2 linked regions of the Homo sapiens genome follow. The protein of the gene in region 1 purifies or fractionates together with the protein of each later gene. This does not show direct contact. Each region holds a gene or a part of one and is shown in the gene's direction. Other genes may lie near its edges.

Region 1 (7,955 bases):
GTATCTTGCTTTATATCATTTCTCAGAACTTGTAATTATTGTTATTATTATTTTTTGAGATGGAGTTTTTGCTCTGTTGCCTAAGCTGGAGTACAATGGCATGATCTCAGCTCACTGCAACCTCCGCCCCCTAAATTCAAGCGATTCTCTTGTCTCAGCCTCCCAAGTACCTGGGATTACAGGCACCCGCCACCATGCCCGGCTAATTTTTGTATTTCTAATGGAGACAAGGTTTCACCATGTTGGCCAGGCTGGTCTTGAACTCTTGACCTCAGATGATCCACCTGCCTCGGCCTCCCAAAGTGCTGGGATTACAGGTGTGAGCCACTGCACCCAGCCCAGAACTTGTAATTATATATTTACATGTGTGATTATTTAAAGTCTGTCTCCTATTAGAATATAGGCTAGTGACCACTTCTTTTTTATTTCCCAATAATTTGTTAAATAAGCTGGAAGTTGCTGTAAGAACCATCATGTCTTTTGGAAGCAAAGCTTGCTGATGTTCTTGTCATCATCTCATGACAAACACTTTTCATTCTGAAAAGTTAGAGGACACATGAGAAAAAACAAAACGTTTTCCAACTTTGGATTCTTTTACCCATTTTTATATCATAAAACCATTCAGATTTTAAACTCTTTGAATTGGAGATAAACTTTAGGTCAGCTTTCCACTTTCAGTAACAAAACTAATTTTTTCTCCTTTGTCCATTTGTTTTATAGGTCTTTTTAAAGGAAAGAAAGCCTTCAAAAATCAGAGTAGTGGTTTGTATATTTTAACAACCGGTTAATCTTTAAGACCAGTGAAGATGAGATTTCCATAAATAAAGCAAAATTCCATATTTAAGTCAGTTGTTGGTGAATGACAAAGAAAATATTAATATATGGCCAGCTGCATTGGCTCATGCCAGTAATCCCAGCATTGCGGGAGACCAAGGTGGGCGGATCGCTTGAGCCCCGGAGTTCGATACCAGCCTGGGCAACATGGCAAAACCCCATGTCTATAAAAAATTACAAAAATTAGCCGGGTTTGGTGGCATGTGCCTGTAGTCCTAGCTACTTGGGAGGCTGAGGTGGGAGGATTGCTTCAGCCTAGGAGGTGGAGGTTGCAGTGAGCCAAGATGGCACCACTGTGTTCCAGTCTGGGTGACAGAATGAGGTTCTGTCTCAAATGAAAAAGAAAGAAAATATTAAAATATAATAATTTTTGTATGTGTAGAACAGGATTCGTGTTGAAAAATAGGGAATTTAAAATGGAGGTGTATGAATACCAAACACAAGCATTTGGATTTATTTTATTTTCTAGGTAGTGATGAGCTATTTAGTTTGGGAAGGTCCTAGCATCAATGGCAACCATTTAGCACTTAACAAGTGTTTGTTATTTTGTTGGAGTATACAGTTAGAGTACCCAAGTTCTGTGTGTTACCTCCCTGTCCCGTGCCCCACCTCTACCCCCCACTCCCACCTTAGGGAGAAAGTTAAGAAGATACCTAGTGCATAGTTCAGTTGAAAAGTGGTAAAAAGAGTAGTTCTTTAGAAAGGATGTTACAATGTAAAGGATTTGTTGGAGGTAAAACCCCAAGAGCTGAGACTGGAAAGGGAAGGGGTTGCCATAATTCATTGATGAGGATGAACTGTGGTTGTAGTTAAAAATGTAGGTTCTGGCATTAGACATAGCTTTGTTTCTCACTGACTGTATTTATAAATTATGTAATGTCTCTAAACCTCAGTTTCCTCATCTGTGAAATAGAGATAATATCCCTATCACTTAGGATTATTTTAAAAATTAAATTGAGATAATGCATGTATGGCATTTAGCACTGCTTAGTAAATGTTGCATAATAAATGTTGGGTTGCATAATAAATACTAGGTGGGATGATGGCATAGTGATGAGTTTCTGAGAGTAGTAGCTATTGAAAATCTGGGATTTGAGTAGATAAGAGTGAGGATAAAGCTGATGCCAAGATTTCTTGCCTGAATGATGGTAGAAGGACAAAAGTAGGGAAGTCTGGGAGCTTCTTTTTTTTTCTTTCTTTTGAGACGGAGTCTTGCTCCCTCACCCAGGCTGGAGTGTAGTGGTGTGATCTCTGCTCCCTGCAACCTTTGCCTCCCAGGTTCAAATGACTCTCCTGCCTCAGCCTTCCAAGTAGCTGGAACTACAGGTGTGTGCCACCACACCCAGCTAAATTTTGTATTTTTAGTGAGAACACATTGTGGTCTCAATGTGTTCGAGACCACATTGGCCAGGCTGGTCTCGAACTCCTGACCTCAGGTGATCTGCCTGTCTCTGCCTCCCAAAGTGCTGGGATTACAGGTGTGAGCCACCGTGCCTGGCCTCTAGGAGCTTCTTAATGAGGGCATGGACTGTATCATCTTCACATCTATATGCCTACCAGGGTGCCTTGAAAGTGCAGTAGCTTAATAAATGTTGTTTACTAAATGAACAAAGGAGTTTAAAGTTGATGTTGTAGCATTCAGATAGGCAGTGAGAGATGTGCGGGTAGAACTTCAGAGAAAGTTCAGGCCTAGTGAAGCCTAATTTGAGAAACAATGTTAGCTTTGAAAGAAAAGTGAAAGCACCAAGTTTACCCACCTTTTGAAATAGTATCAACATGTTATGGAAGTTTTAAGACTTAAGACATTATTATGTAACAATGTTTATAAAGTGAACAAAGGACATATTCTTTCTCACTGACTTCTTAGTTTCAAAATGTAGCAAGAATGAATAAACCAAGGTACAAGTTGAACAAGGTGCAGGCTCATCCTGTAATCCCTCATTATGCACAGCAGATAAGTTCCTAAAGTTCTGTTGATCTTTTATGTGTGTCTCTGTGTGTTGTGCATCATATTTTAAATATTTTCATTAAGGTAATCTGTAGTTTTTAAATAACCAAGAAGTTAATCTTTGTTGTATAAACGATCACTTTCCTTTTTTTTTTTTTTTGAGATGGAGTTTTGCTCTTGTTGCCCAGGTTGGAGTGCAATGGCGTGATCTCTGCTCACTGCAACCTCCACCTCCTGGGTTCAAGCAATTCTCCTGCCTCAGCCTCCCGAGTAGCTGGGATTACAGACATGCACTGCCACGCCCAGCTAATTTTGTATTTTTAGTAGAGACGGGGTTTCTCCATGTTGGTCAGGCTGGTCTCGAACTCCTGACCTCAGGTTATCTGCCCGCCTCCACCTCTCAAAGTGCTGGGATTACTCGCGTCAGCCACCGTGCCCAGCCCACTTTCTTTTAAGTATTAATTTTGTATATTGGGTTCTTTTTAAAAAGCACATTTTTATTTTCTTTAGCTGAGTTGATGGCTTCCGGAGAACTGGCATAGCTGCAGAATATGAGTAGTGTCCCAAGAAGAGTGCTTTGCCTTTGGCACAAGGATCAGAATAAAGGTGAATTGCTATTACATAGGGTTTTTCGGTAAAAGTCACTGAAAAGTAAGTAATGTTTTTGTTTTGGATATATGTTTCAAAGAGCATGCAATCTGGCGGGAACTGACAGTTTTGTGTTTGTTTTGTAGTAATAGTTTTTGTGTTTTGGCCATACTTTATTTACCACTGAATGCTCTCTGATTAAGGATGTTTTCAAAGCAGTACCTAAAATGTGAGCACTTAAATAAATGTACAGGGCATAGAAACATTTTTGCTAATATTGTTGCTTTGAGCATTCATGGTGATGCTCAAAGTTGAACAGTAATTTTAATAATTGTGAAGAAATTTAGAGAAAGAATCTCTGGACATATTTAAAGAATAATTCATTTTAATTATCTTTTGTCTTCTTATTTTTTTGCTTTAATAAGACAATTACCATTACCGAGTTTAAGGAAACCCTGTCTTTGTCTTAGGTTCATAGGAAGTTTAACTGTTACTGGATCATGCTTCATGCTGAAAAAGAAACTTAGTTTTTTACTCTTAACCAAGTAGAGCAAGCCCTGATAATATAATGAATGAGCAAATGTAGCTGTCAATTCATTTAGTGCAAAAGCAGGTAATGAACTAAATTGAGGCATTATGAAAAAGTTTATTATATTGGTTCTGCCAATTTTATGTCCTACATCTTTTATATAAAGCTTTTTAAAGAGGGTAATGTGTAAATTGAGTCTTGATTTTAGAGCCAGGAGAAGAAATTAAGGAGGGTTGGGGATGGGGAGAACACATAAAAATCCTCTAGACATGACCTCTGTGTATGCAAAGGTATAGTGGCATGAGAACATAGAGATTTTTGAGGAAATTATAAGTAATTCAGAAGGATTTGGGGGTTTTATTGGGAATAGACAGGTAAGCAGGGCCTGAGTCCTGAAGGGCCTCTACGTCACATTAGTGAGTTTAGATTTTATTGCGAGAACAAGTGGAGAGCTATTGAATGATATAAAGCAAGAGAGGGATATGATTTGATCTGCAGTTCATTATAAGGCTGTCTGAAAGGTGTATGGAGGTAGAATTTTTTTTTTTTTTTTTCTGAGACAGAGTCTGGCTCCAGGCTGGAGTGCAGTGGTATGATCTCGGCTCACTGCAGCCTCTGCCTCCCGGATTCCAGCGATTCTCTTGCCTCAGCCTCCCAAGTAGCTGGAATTACAGGCGCACGCCACCACACCTGGCTAATTTTTGTATTTTTGGTAGAGATGGGGTTTCACCATGTTGGCCAGGCTGGTCTCAAACTCCTGACCTCAGGTGATCTGCCCACCTCGGCCTCGCAAAGTGCTGGGATTACAGGCATCAGCCACAGCTCCCGATCTGTGGAGGCAGAATTGATGGGATTCTCCTGACTTTCCATCTCTAATCTAATACCAATAATTATCAAGAAGGAAGCCAAAGACAAGTCTTCTGTTTCTGGCATGGGAAACTGGAGTAGAAGAGTGATGTATTCTTTGTAGCACTGAGTGGCGGAGTGGAAAAAAGTCTCAAGGATGTATCCAACAATAAAGTCACAAATTATAATTGCAGAAAAAAGTATTACAGATATACATTGCTGGCTCAAGTTTCTGTAGCTCTGTAGCATTACTAGTTTGAGCCAAATGTCATGTTAACAGACAGTTCTATAAACATTAATGGACTCTATTACTTTGACGAATTCATATTACCCAGCACATTATACTAATATCTAAATCTGCCCATAGTAAGCACTTAAAAATTTTTGATGAGATGAGTGAATAATAATAGAGTACTTATGATACTTAACACCTTTAAACTCTCGAAAGTGTTTTCATATATCTTCTTTTATCTTCAGTTATTTGCCATACAGTAACCAGAGACCTCCAACTAGGGGCCCCCAAACTGTATCCTGCCTGTAGGTGAGTTTTGTTTGATTTGTAGCTGTTAAAAATAAATTTGAATTCATTGCCAACAATTAAAAATGGACAGTTTTACATAAACGTTTGGATGTCTTTATTTTCTTGAAAAGTTAGATGGTCTGGCAATGCTAGGTTCGCTATTTCTACATGGTAATAATTGGCTAGATTGGGTAGCAATTGTTCAAATTTTGCCTGCTTAAGTCATTTCTGTCACCTGCTAGCCCCTATAGATAGTTGAGTTAGTGACTCCTGTTAACATTGTATTTATTGAGGTCTTTGGAGAAAGAGGTATTATGGACATGGAATAAATTCAGAAAACAGACATTAATTCCATTAATATTAATTACTGCTGTCTGCTGAGTGCCTAGTATGTATTATTTCATTCTACAACACTAAAACATTTGCTATTCCTATTTTGTGGTTGAGAAAACTTATGGTTAAAGAAGGTAAGTTACAAATTAGTAAGTGATAGGGCTGGCTGGCTGCTGATTTCTAGACCTAGCATCATTTTCCTTTATATACTAGCCTTTCTGGCTTTTCTTGTTGAGCTGTTTAGGCAAAGGTAATGTTTAATTGTGTTTAATTTAGTAAATTATAAGCAAGAATCCACTTTAGAAGTAGTGTTTTTAAAGGTTTGAAATAGTATAAAATTTGAGTTCGCAATTTTAAATGATTGCATATTTATGTATGTAACACACTATTTGATAACATTCTTTGCTATAACTGTAATTTTATTTACTTGTTGACTTTTGCAAAAGCTAATTTGAAGAGTTTTACACATCCGATTATTGCTGTAAGTTTAAGTTTTTTGTGTTTTTTTTTTGTTTGTTTGTTTTGAGACAGGGTCTCACTCAGAGTGTCACCTAGGCTGGAATTGAGTGGTGCAATCATGGCTCACTGCAGCCTCGACCTCCCTGGCTCAGGTGATCCTCCCATCTCAGCCTCTGGAGTAGTTGGAGCTACAGGAGCACATGACCATGCCAGGCTAATTTTTTGGTATTTTTTGTAGAGATGAGGTTTTTGCCGTGTTGCTCAAGCAGTCTGCCCACCTCATCCTTCCAAAGTGCTGGGATTACAGGCATGAGCCACTGTGTCCGGCCATTTTTTCTTTTTAGTTTTCAAATATTGCCTGACAAGCACCCAGCCATTTTTGAGTATTAAAAGTTCATTCAGGAAACTTGAGTATTTGTTAAAGATAAAATTGGTAAAGATTCTTTCTAGGAATGGTAGTTTAAATATAAATGGTAGGTGGTTCTTTGGAAGAGAGGTTTTTTGTTTGTTTTCTCTAGAGATTAAATGATTTCCTCAAATATTGTAATTCTGGAGGTCAAATAACTTGGTTATTTTTAAAATTTTTTACTCATTTAATGTCTTCTGTACATACGGATATGCTTAGATTGCTCACTGTTAGAAGGAAGCATTTGGTGATATACTTTGATGTTTTGGGAGGAACTCCATTCTAAGAAATGGAGTCAGAGGCCTGAATTTTGTATTGTTTTGTTTTGTTTTGAGACAGTGTCTTCACTCTATTGCCCAGGCGGGAGTGCAGTGGGTAGTCATGGCTCACTGCAGCCTTGACCTCCTGTGCTCAAGTGATCCTCCCACTTCAGCCCCTCTAGAAGCTGAGACTATAGGCGTGTATCACCATGCCTGGCTAATGTTTTTTCAGTTTTTTTGTAGCGATAGAGCCTCCCTGTGTTGCCCAGGCTGGTCTCAAATTCCCAGGCTTAAGCAGTCCTCCCACCTCAACTTCTCAAAGTTTTGGGATTACAGGCTGAGCCACCATGCCTGGCCTGAACACACTTTTTTTTTTTTTTTAACTTATATTTGGAAATCCAGACCCATTAGCTTTCATGAAGGAAGAGAATAATCAACACTTTAATGGTGAAGGCAATCACTTTGAGAATGGGATCTTATTCCTGTTGACATGTCTTTAGCGGTAGCAGTATGGTTGTGAATGATACAAAATGTAGAATTTAGGCACTAATAAATACAGTACTGGACACATGGCAAAGAAGGGAAAATGAAGGCGCAGAAGAAATGCATGGTGGTTAGAAATTAATTACTAGTAAGTTATAACTTATCTTATTTTTCTTCCTTAGAACCTGCCAGGTAAAGGTATATTTTTGCTTTTTAATTTAGCCAGAAGCAATTTTTAAAGAAAATATGTCTCCTCTGAAGATACATGGTCCTATCAGAATTCGAAGTATGCAGACTGGGATTACAAAGTGGAAAGAAGGATCCTTTGAAATTGTAGAAAAAGAGAATAAAGTCAGCCTAGTAGTTCACTACAATACTGGAGGAATTCCAAGGATATTTCAGGTAATACCAAATATTGATTTGGAATAGCTCTTGAAGCAGATCATTTAGTAAATAGCTATTCTGTGCCATAGTAAACATCACAGTAGCCCTCCTCCTAGATTAATATTTCTTGCTTCTTATTTCTAGGACATTAATATTTTTATGTACATGTTTTATAAATTATTCATCAGTATTGTTGTTGGTATATAATAAAAGCAGGAAGTAGTCACCATTATTGAAAAGAAAACTTGTGGGAGGAAGCTGACAAGAGTTCGGATACTGTATATCTAAGCTATTTTTAAAACCACTTTAAGATAATTTTAGTTCTTCCTTTTTTTCCCCTTAACATACATGACGATGGATTCATC
Region 2 (7,955 bases), on another chromosome or scaffold:
TAACAGAGTTTAGTTATATTACGATTAATTTTAAAATGGCCTTTTATTTAAGGATTTTGATATTTCCTGAAAGGGATATCAGTTAAGACTCTTAGACAACCCTTATCATAAATTAAATATGTGTATTTATTTTAGTAAAGTAGCACAGGTGCTTAACAACTGATTGAGTAAATCCAGGATCAAATGTAGGAAATAATGCCTTAGAATCTAATTGCATGTGGCTTTCTGTTTTCACTGCATTTCAATTACAGTTTCCAGAACTGGGTTAAAAATATTTTTTACATTGGTTTCAAGATAATACGATTGATGGAGGAAAAGGGGTTAAACTGATGGTGTTTTGAAAGCCTAAAGCATGAAATATTTTTAGATTTTTATGAGTCAGCTTCAGTACTCAAATATTTGTGATTGTGCTGCTTGTACCAGTTTGGCACTTAATGCTTAACAAGATAACTTTCATTTGCTGTTCCAAAGTGTGCTGTATTAAAAAGAGGAAACAGACTTCTTGGTTATCTCCATTTTCTAATCTTCATCCCTGTACTTTCCTTAATATTGATTCTTCTGTTTTTCCTTGCATTTTTGATAAGTATATTAGGAAATAAAGCTGGTGATAGCAGAATAGTTAAATTTCTAAAATATAACCCCCACTTTGACTCCTACCGCTGCCTGAGGCCTGGGTCCACCCAGGTTGCTTCTCCTCCTGACCCACTCTATAGGATTCAGCTTTGAATATTAGTAAAGTCTATAAGCTCTTAATTTAGACCCTGAATTTACAGTTACTAATGGTAAATAATTTAACCGCCAGATGACTTTTAGGGCCTTATATTGGCCCAGGGCTATACCTGTTAGTGGGCCTATTTTTCCAAACTTCTGAGTTTGGTAAAATTCGCCTTATGAATGAGGCAGAAAACTAGTAATTCATTTTGGAAATATGTAAAGTTTATCCGGCTATGTTCAATGGACTTCATTGGGAAGAATGAGAACTGTACAATATGTATCACGTGGTATTTATTAACCTTTGAGTTAGGAATATGACTTGATTTTCAGGCACTCATCACTAGAAAGCACTCACAAGAGCTTCTGATTGGAAGAGAAAGATGATTAGATTACCCTGTAAGAAGCCAGCAGAAATTGATGCTATCACTTTAGGAAAGGCGATCCTGCCTCCTCCACGGGTGTGAGTGAATCCCCTCTTCCCTTTACACAATTAATGGATGGTTTATAATTAATTGTTAAATGACTTCCCTTTTTGCTAAGTGACCTTAAGTGAGTCATTTCCCTTCTGTCTTATCTCTTAAGTGGCTGTATTACTTGTTCAATGAAGTAATGTAGGTTAAAATACACTGATCCTTATTAAGAAGGTGTGGGCAGGTGCGGTGGCTCTAGCCTGTAATCCCAGCACTTTAGGAGGTGGGAGGATTGCTTGAGCCCAGGAGTTAGAGACCAGCCTAGGCAACATAACAAAACCCTGTCTCTACAAAAAATAAAAAAATTAGCCAGGCATAGTGGTTCACTCCTATAGTCCCTGCTACTCAGGAGCCTGAGGTGGGGAGGATTGCTTGAGCCCAGGAGTTTGAGGTTGCAGTGACCTGTGATTGTGCCACTGCACTCCAGCCTGGGTAACAGAGCAAGACACTCTCAAAAAAAAAAAAAAAAAAAAAGAAAAGAAAAAAGAAAGAAACGAATAAATGAAGTTACTGGAAATGTTGTCTTTTTTTCTTTTTGGATCTTTTTTTTTTCTTCCTGTCATTGACTTTCTCGGGGTGAGTGGGGTTGTTTAGTGACTTCATCAAGAAATTGGATATTACTTTGTCACCACCTTTCTCCTCATGTAGCACACCACTAGGGGTGCTAACTTACTGAATGCAGACTCAGTGGACACAGGTTTCAATAGGGTCCAAATGAATAAACCACACACACACACACACACACACACACACACATTTATATAAAATATATGGACCTCACTGACCTGCCTAAAGAGGCATTGGCTCAAATATATCAATTTTTGCCCCTGATTTTGCAGTAGGTTAGATATCCTTTCAGATTTGACATGGATAAACATGTTCCTGCACACAAGTCTTGGCATTCTGGGCTCTTGACTGCTATAGTCTGTCTCCTGCAAATAGGGAGCTAGCCCAGGAGAATCACTCAGCCATTACATAGATTCACAACAGCACATATATGCCTCTTACTAGTGTTGTTTGAGCCTGTGAATTCTAGAAACAAAATTATCTGCCCTGTAAGATCTGTGGGATCCTGGGTTCTACCTTGTGATATTTGTTCTTCATAGAAAACAAAGCATTTTAAGTCCTAGTGATTCCAATTCCAGTCTTCCTTTGTATTCCATTCTCCCTTATGGCTTTTCTGCCTACTTTCCTTGCTTACTGTATATTCTAGCACATGGAGGACCATGGTCCTCCAGATTCTGCTCACACGTTTCCTTTGTCAGCACTGATAGGAATGGACCTAAGCCCATTTATTGAAGGCTACTGATATTTATCAAAAGGATCTAATAGGTGGTTCTCTGGCCAAATTGGCTTAGGTTATATCTCAGCAATCTTCTCTTTCATTTATGCTAATGAAGTCCTATCCACCCATAAAACACAATAGGTGCCACCTCTTTTGATGTCAGTTTATATTATGGTAGCAGAGACTGTCTGGTTTTTGTGTCTGTATAGCACTGCCTATATGACACTCAAATGAAATGAATGAATTCTGGCACTTTGTATTTATCCTGTAGCACTTAACATATTTCAGGCTTGTAATATAGTTACCTGTTTGTGTCCTCTGTTGAATGATAAACTCCTCATGGGAAGGGCTGGGACCTTAATTATCTTCCAGTGACACACAGTTCCTTCATACACACGGTGTCTTCTTTGTGGTAGGCTTTCAGGAAATGTTGGGTTGAATTTTCCTGGTGATCATTTTCAGACATTATTGCCTTTTGCCTGTGTCTTAACTATCCTCTTTTCTAAACATTTTCACCCACATTACTAATTCTCACAATAATCAGTTCCAAATTTTTATGGGACTTATCATATCATCCTATTATATTATAAAAACTTGTGGTTGTGCCTAAACTCTTCTTCTAGAGGCTGTGTTTGATTGCCCTGTTACTCCTCAGCACATGGGTGCTCAATATGGATTTAAATTAATGTTAGATTTTCTTTCTTTCATGCAGTGAAACCTTTTAAGATTTCCTTTTGAATATCTTAAGACAAAGGTAGAGATGAATAGAGAAGAAAGATGGGGAGGGGGAAGAGGTGGGTGGTGTGTTGTTTATAGGACATCCATAGACATATTAACCATTATTTACAGACTTTCCACACATACAGATTGATTTACATAGAACTCAGAGACTGGTTGTTAGCAAAGAACTGAGGAAACTGAATACTTTTTGCATCAGTTGGTGCAGGTTTGCCAAATAGTTGATAAGCTCCAAGGGCTCCATGACCTTAGAAAAGCATGGTTTAGCAGAAAGGGCATGGGCTTTGAAGTGAAACACCTGAGTTTGTATCCAAGCTCTGTCGCTTGCTAGCTGTGTGACATAAAGAAAGGTAACCTTTCTGCAGTATGATTTGATTATATGTAAAAATAAATAAGAAAACTTAGGTATTGGTCTGAGTTGTTGGGAGGATTATATGAGAGATGTGTGTGAAAGGACTTTGCAGAGGCTTGCTTTTCTTCAAATGCTGACCATACTAACTTTCCCCACAAGTACAGGGACCCTAAAGCGAAGTCAAGACCGATGGTGTGGAAAAGGTCTTTCTCCTGAGTTGCGCATGTATTTATTTGTGAGGCTTTACAGAAGACTAACATTTAGTTGCTTTTAGCCATACATTTAATGAGCCATCTTTGGGAAAAACAATGAAATCATGCAGAGTCAATACTGTCTTGGAAAATCTGGGAGGTACTATTTCAATGACTACCAATTTGGCGTAATTAGATCTATGCTGTAACTACAGAGAGAACCCACCCAGTCCTATTTTTATGCCTGGTATCCTGACAGAAAGAGACTGGTGATTAGTTTATATTGACATTGAGCATTGGGATTTATGTTTGATCGGTTTAGTTTAGACTGACCAAATTGTGGTTTTTGAATTCTTATTCTTACCATCATCAAAGCTGATGGTTTTAACCTTAACAGAATAAGCAGTGAGAATTCATACAAGATTTTCTTCTGAGTTGTATTGTTCATTGAATTAGATGACAATGGGGGAAGAAACGTGTTGGTTAAGAATGTGCTCGTTACCCTTGGTTAGTTTCTGCTGATCGCAATTGCTTAAGAGGAAGTTTGTCTTTGTAGGCAAATGAGAGACAGACCAGGAAGACCTGACAATCCAGTAGGGTATCTCTTACCTGGTTCTTAGTGTTTTAATGAAACTAAAAGATGGAAGAGTTCTGTGATGTCAGCGGGAAGCGTTTTTAGGAAATTCCCTCTCAGGTTGAGTTAACAATGAAGAGCTTCACAAAATGGAAAGCTGTGAAGTATAAACACTGGGACATTAATAGGAAAAATAAAAAAAAAAGCTTTGGCTCTTTGGCTTGTGATAGAGAGGTGTGTAAATATAAGCATATTGAATGTAGGAAACCATTGTATAGTAAAAAGCCTCTGATCCACAGAAGAAAAAGAAAGACTGAGGTTCTACTATTGTGAAAAAGGAACTTGAGTAATTTTTAATGTTTATTTTTTTAGGAGTTAACTGGAGAACATTGAACCAGTTTTGGTAACTAACAATAAAATATATTTTGGCCCTCTGAAATGACTACATGATAGATTCAAAGAGAAAGGGGGCAGAGGGGCAGGAAGAACTCAGTCCTGACACTACTCACCTGGCATCTGTTAATCTTTGTATTACTAGCATAAGGCCTGCCAGCAATTAGGGATTGAAGAAATATATATATACAATTAGGGATTGAAGAAATATATATGTGTGTGTATATATATATATATTTTTTTTTTTTGAAGGGAAGGGAGAAAAATTAACTCACTAGTACAGGGGAAAAGCCTGAGGATTCAAGAGGTCCAGAAATGAGTCTGTTAGTCAAATTGCTGTGGTTGTGTTTTGCTATAACTTGTTTTGCATTTTGGATAGTCGTACCTTGAAAAGCATAGTATACTGTTTTAGCAGTTCGCTACTAGCCATAGTTCCCTAGCTACTTCTGTCAAAATTGGGTTTCCAGTTTATTCTTAGGCTTAGGAGTAATACCACTTAATGGGAAAAACTTGAGAACTCATTATTTGCTTGGGATTTTACTTTTGTGATCTCCTTAAAGTTGTGAGTCTTAAGGTATTTTCATCTGATTGTTATGGCGAGGTTAATCATAGACCGGTATTTCAGTCACTTTAATTGCCTTACCTACAATATGAACAATCAGAACATCTTTAAGAGTCATTGCCTGTGGACTGTCAACAAATCTTAGAATTTAAAAATTACTTGGGTTCAGCTGGATTTGAGATTCTTTGTCACAGTTACAATCTTTGCTGCTAAACACAAAGACTACTTGAGTACCATTATAGTATGTCTTGCCACAGTCTTTTTTTTTTTTTTTTTTTTGAGACGGAGTCTTGCTCTGTTAACCAGGCTGGAGTACAGTGGCACGATCTCAGCTCACTGCAGCCTCTGTCTCCCGGGTTCAAGTGATTCTCCTTCCTCAGCCTCCCGAGTAGCTGGGATTGTAGGCATGTGCCACCAGGCCCGGTTAATTTTTGTACTTTTAGTAGAGATGGGGTTTCACCATGTTGGTCAGGCTGGCCTCACACTCCTGACCTCAAGTGATCTGCCCGCCTCGGCCTCCCAAAATGTTGGGACTACAGGTGTGAGCCATCGAGCCCAGCCTATAATGTGTTTTGTTTTAGCATTAATATTGTGGGCTTTAGGCTGGGCATGGGGGCTCACACCTGTAATCCCAGCCCTTTGGGAGGCCAAGGTAGGCAGATCGCTTGAGCTTAGGAGTTCGAGGCCAGCCTGGGCAACATGGTGAAACCCTGTCTCTACTTAAAAAAAAAAAAAAAAAGACAAGAAAAAAATATCATGGGCTGTAGAATTGCATGGCTCTTTGTTAATTAAATGCTTTTTTAAGTGGCAAGATCTAGGGAATTACCCTTTCAGGATGGCCCAACTGATTCATGTAGGCTGAAATATTTACTCTTCTGTATTTTCATTGTTCTCCATTTTGATGTTAATTAATTTAGGACCTTTGAGAGTAAAGCTTGATTTCTTCTCCTCTCTCAGAAATCATGGGCTTTCTGACCCTTGAACTGTGGAGTCCATAGTGCTCCATGAAAAGGGCATGGGCTCTACTACCTAGTAGATGTGGGACTTTGGATAGGTTACTTCTTTCTGCTCATCTTTTTTTGAGAATTAAATATGGGTAATTAATGTAAAGGGCTTGGCCAGTTAGTAGCTTTTCAATAAGGTAGGTATTACTATAATTACTGCAGGAGCATTTTGGCTATAATGTAGCAATTGTGGAAGTAGCAAATTTATGTTCGAGTAAGTTCAGTCTTTTTGTTTTTATCTTTGTTGTTCTGCTGAATGCTTTTTCTCTTTCCCTTTTAGTTTGTTTAGAATTTGCAGTCTAATTTGATATGGTAGAAAAAGAATATTGATATAATATGGACAGGACTTAATATTTAATGGTGTCACCTAGTAAATTGTATATTAGCGTTCTTTATGATTTTTCCCAGTTTACGTGATCATTGGCCATTGTACGGGACTGGCCTTTACTGAGTCAGAAGTTCAGTCTTCAGTTATATGTTTTGAAGCACACTATATTTTAGCTAAGGGTAGAGGATTTGGGTAATATGTAGATATGATGTCTTATATGTAGCAAACCAAAACATTTTGTTAGGTACGTAAATAAATATCTTTATGGTAGATATTTGAGCCCTCTCGTATCATTCTTTTTGGCTGACAAACTATTTTTCTAATGGTGGAGGAGCTGTCTTAGAAAATGGATAAGGAAGTTCAGTGTAGCTGAATGGTCTAGGACAATTTATATGGATGATAGGGTAGGTATTTTTTAGCTGCTCTCATTTGGAAGTTGCATGCTGTTTATCATGAGTAAATATTAACATTAGGGATGTTCCATTATTTGTTACGAGTTTTGTATCCTTTCAACACAGAGGTGAGGAATGCTGCTGCAGGCATTTTATGCCAAATAGCTGACTCAGGGGTTATAACTTTTTTCCTGTGCCTCAGATCCACCATTCCATTGACCCTTCCTTCCATTTCTTGGAGGCTGTCCTTTGCCGCTGGTGCCATGGTGGGTGTATGGATTGCTTTCTGTCTTTCAACAGTTACCGAAGTGCATGTTTGGGATTTTGTTGAAGAAAGCTGGATACAGTAAACGGAAAGAATCTTGGAAGATGCTTGACTGCTGTCTTTTCTCAGACTAGTCTGAAAGGGAAAACCCCCATTCATTCTGGATTGGTGGATCTGAAGTACAAAATATTTTCCAGGTAAGCAATTACCCTGTATTGTTTTGTTTTGTGGAACTCAACTCGCTGAAAGAAATTTTGAAAAATATTTTCCCTTATTTATTTTGTCCATTAATAGGGAAAGGGAGAAATATTAGACGTTTGTGCGTAGTGTCATGTTTGGCCATGTTTGAGTGTGGATCAGTGAAGGTCTATGTGTCTGAATTCCTGGTAAAAACTTTGTTTTACTGTAAGAAGTGCAGTTATTATTATCTTTGAGACATCAGGTCGCCCAGGCTGGACTGCAGTGGCACAAACATGGCTTACTGCAGCCTTGACCTCTTGGCCTCACACGATCTTCCTGCCTTAGCCTCTCAGGTAGCTGGGACCACAGGCACATGTCACTATGCTCAGCTAATTTCTTTTTTGTAGAGACAGGGTCTCACCATGTTGCCCAGACTGGTCTTGAACTCCTGGGCTCGAATGATTTGCCTGCCTTGGCCTCCCAGAGTGTTGGGATTACAGACATGAG

Evidence for each region.
Region 2: the proteins of USP37 (region 1) and FBXW11 purify together in Homo sapiens (affinity purification with mass spectrometry; 7 studies listed by BioGRID and IntAct, with this or other methods). This does not show direct contact.

The regions. Positions count from the first base shown.
Region 1 is NC_000002.12:218,558,151-218,566,105, reverse strand, and holds part of USP37 (ubiquitin carboxyl-terminal hydrolase 37), read left to right. Parts: intron 1-3,292; 5' UTR 3,293-3,433; intron 3,434-5,222; 5' UTR 5,223-5,286; intron 5,287-7,428; 5' UTR 7,429-7,452; coding exon 7,453-7,608; intron 7,609-7,955. UniProt on the Homo sapiens protein: Deubiquitinase that plays a role in different processes including cell cycle regulation, DNA replication or DNA damage response.
Region 2 is NC_000005.10:171,996,400-172,004,354, reverse strand, and holds part of FBXW11 (F-box/WD repeat-containing protein 11), read left to right. Parts: intron 1-1,044; exon of another isoform or gene 1,045-1,174; intron 1,175-7,303; exon of another isoform or gene 7,304-7,465; intron 7,466-7,955.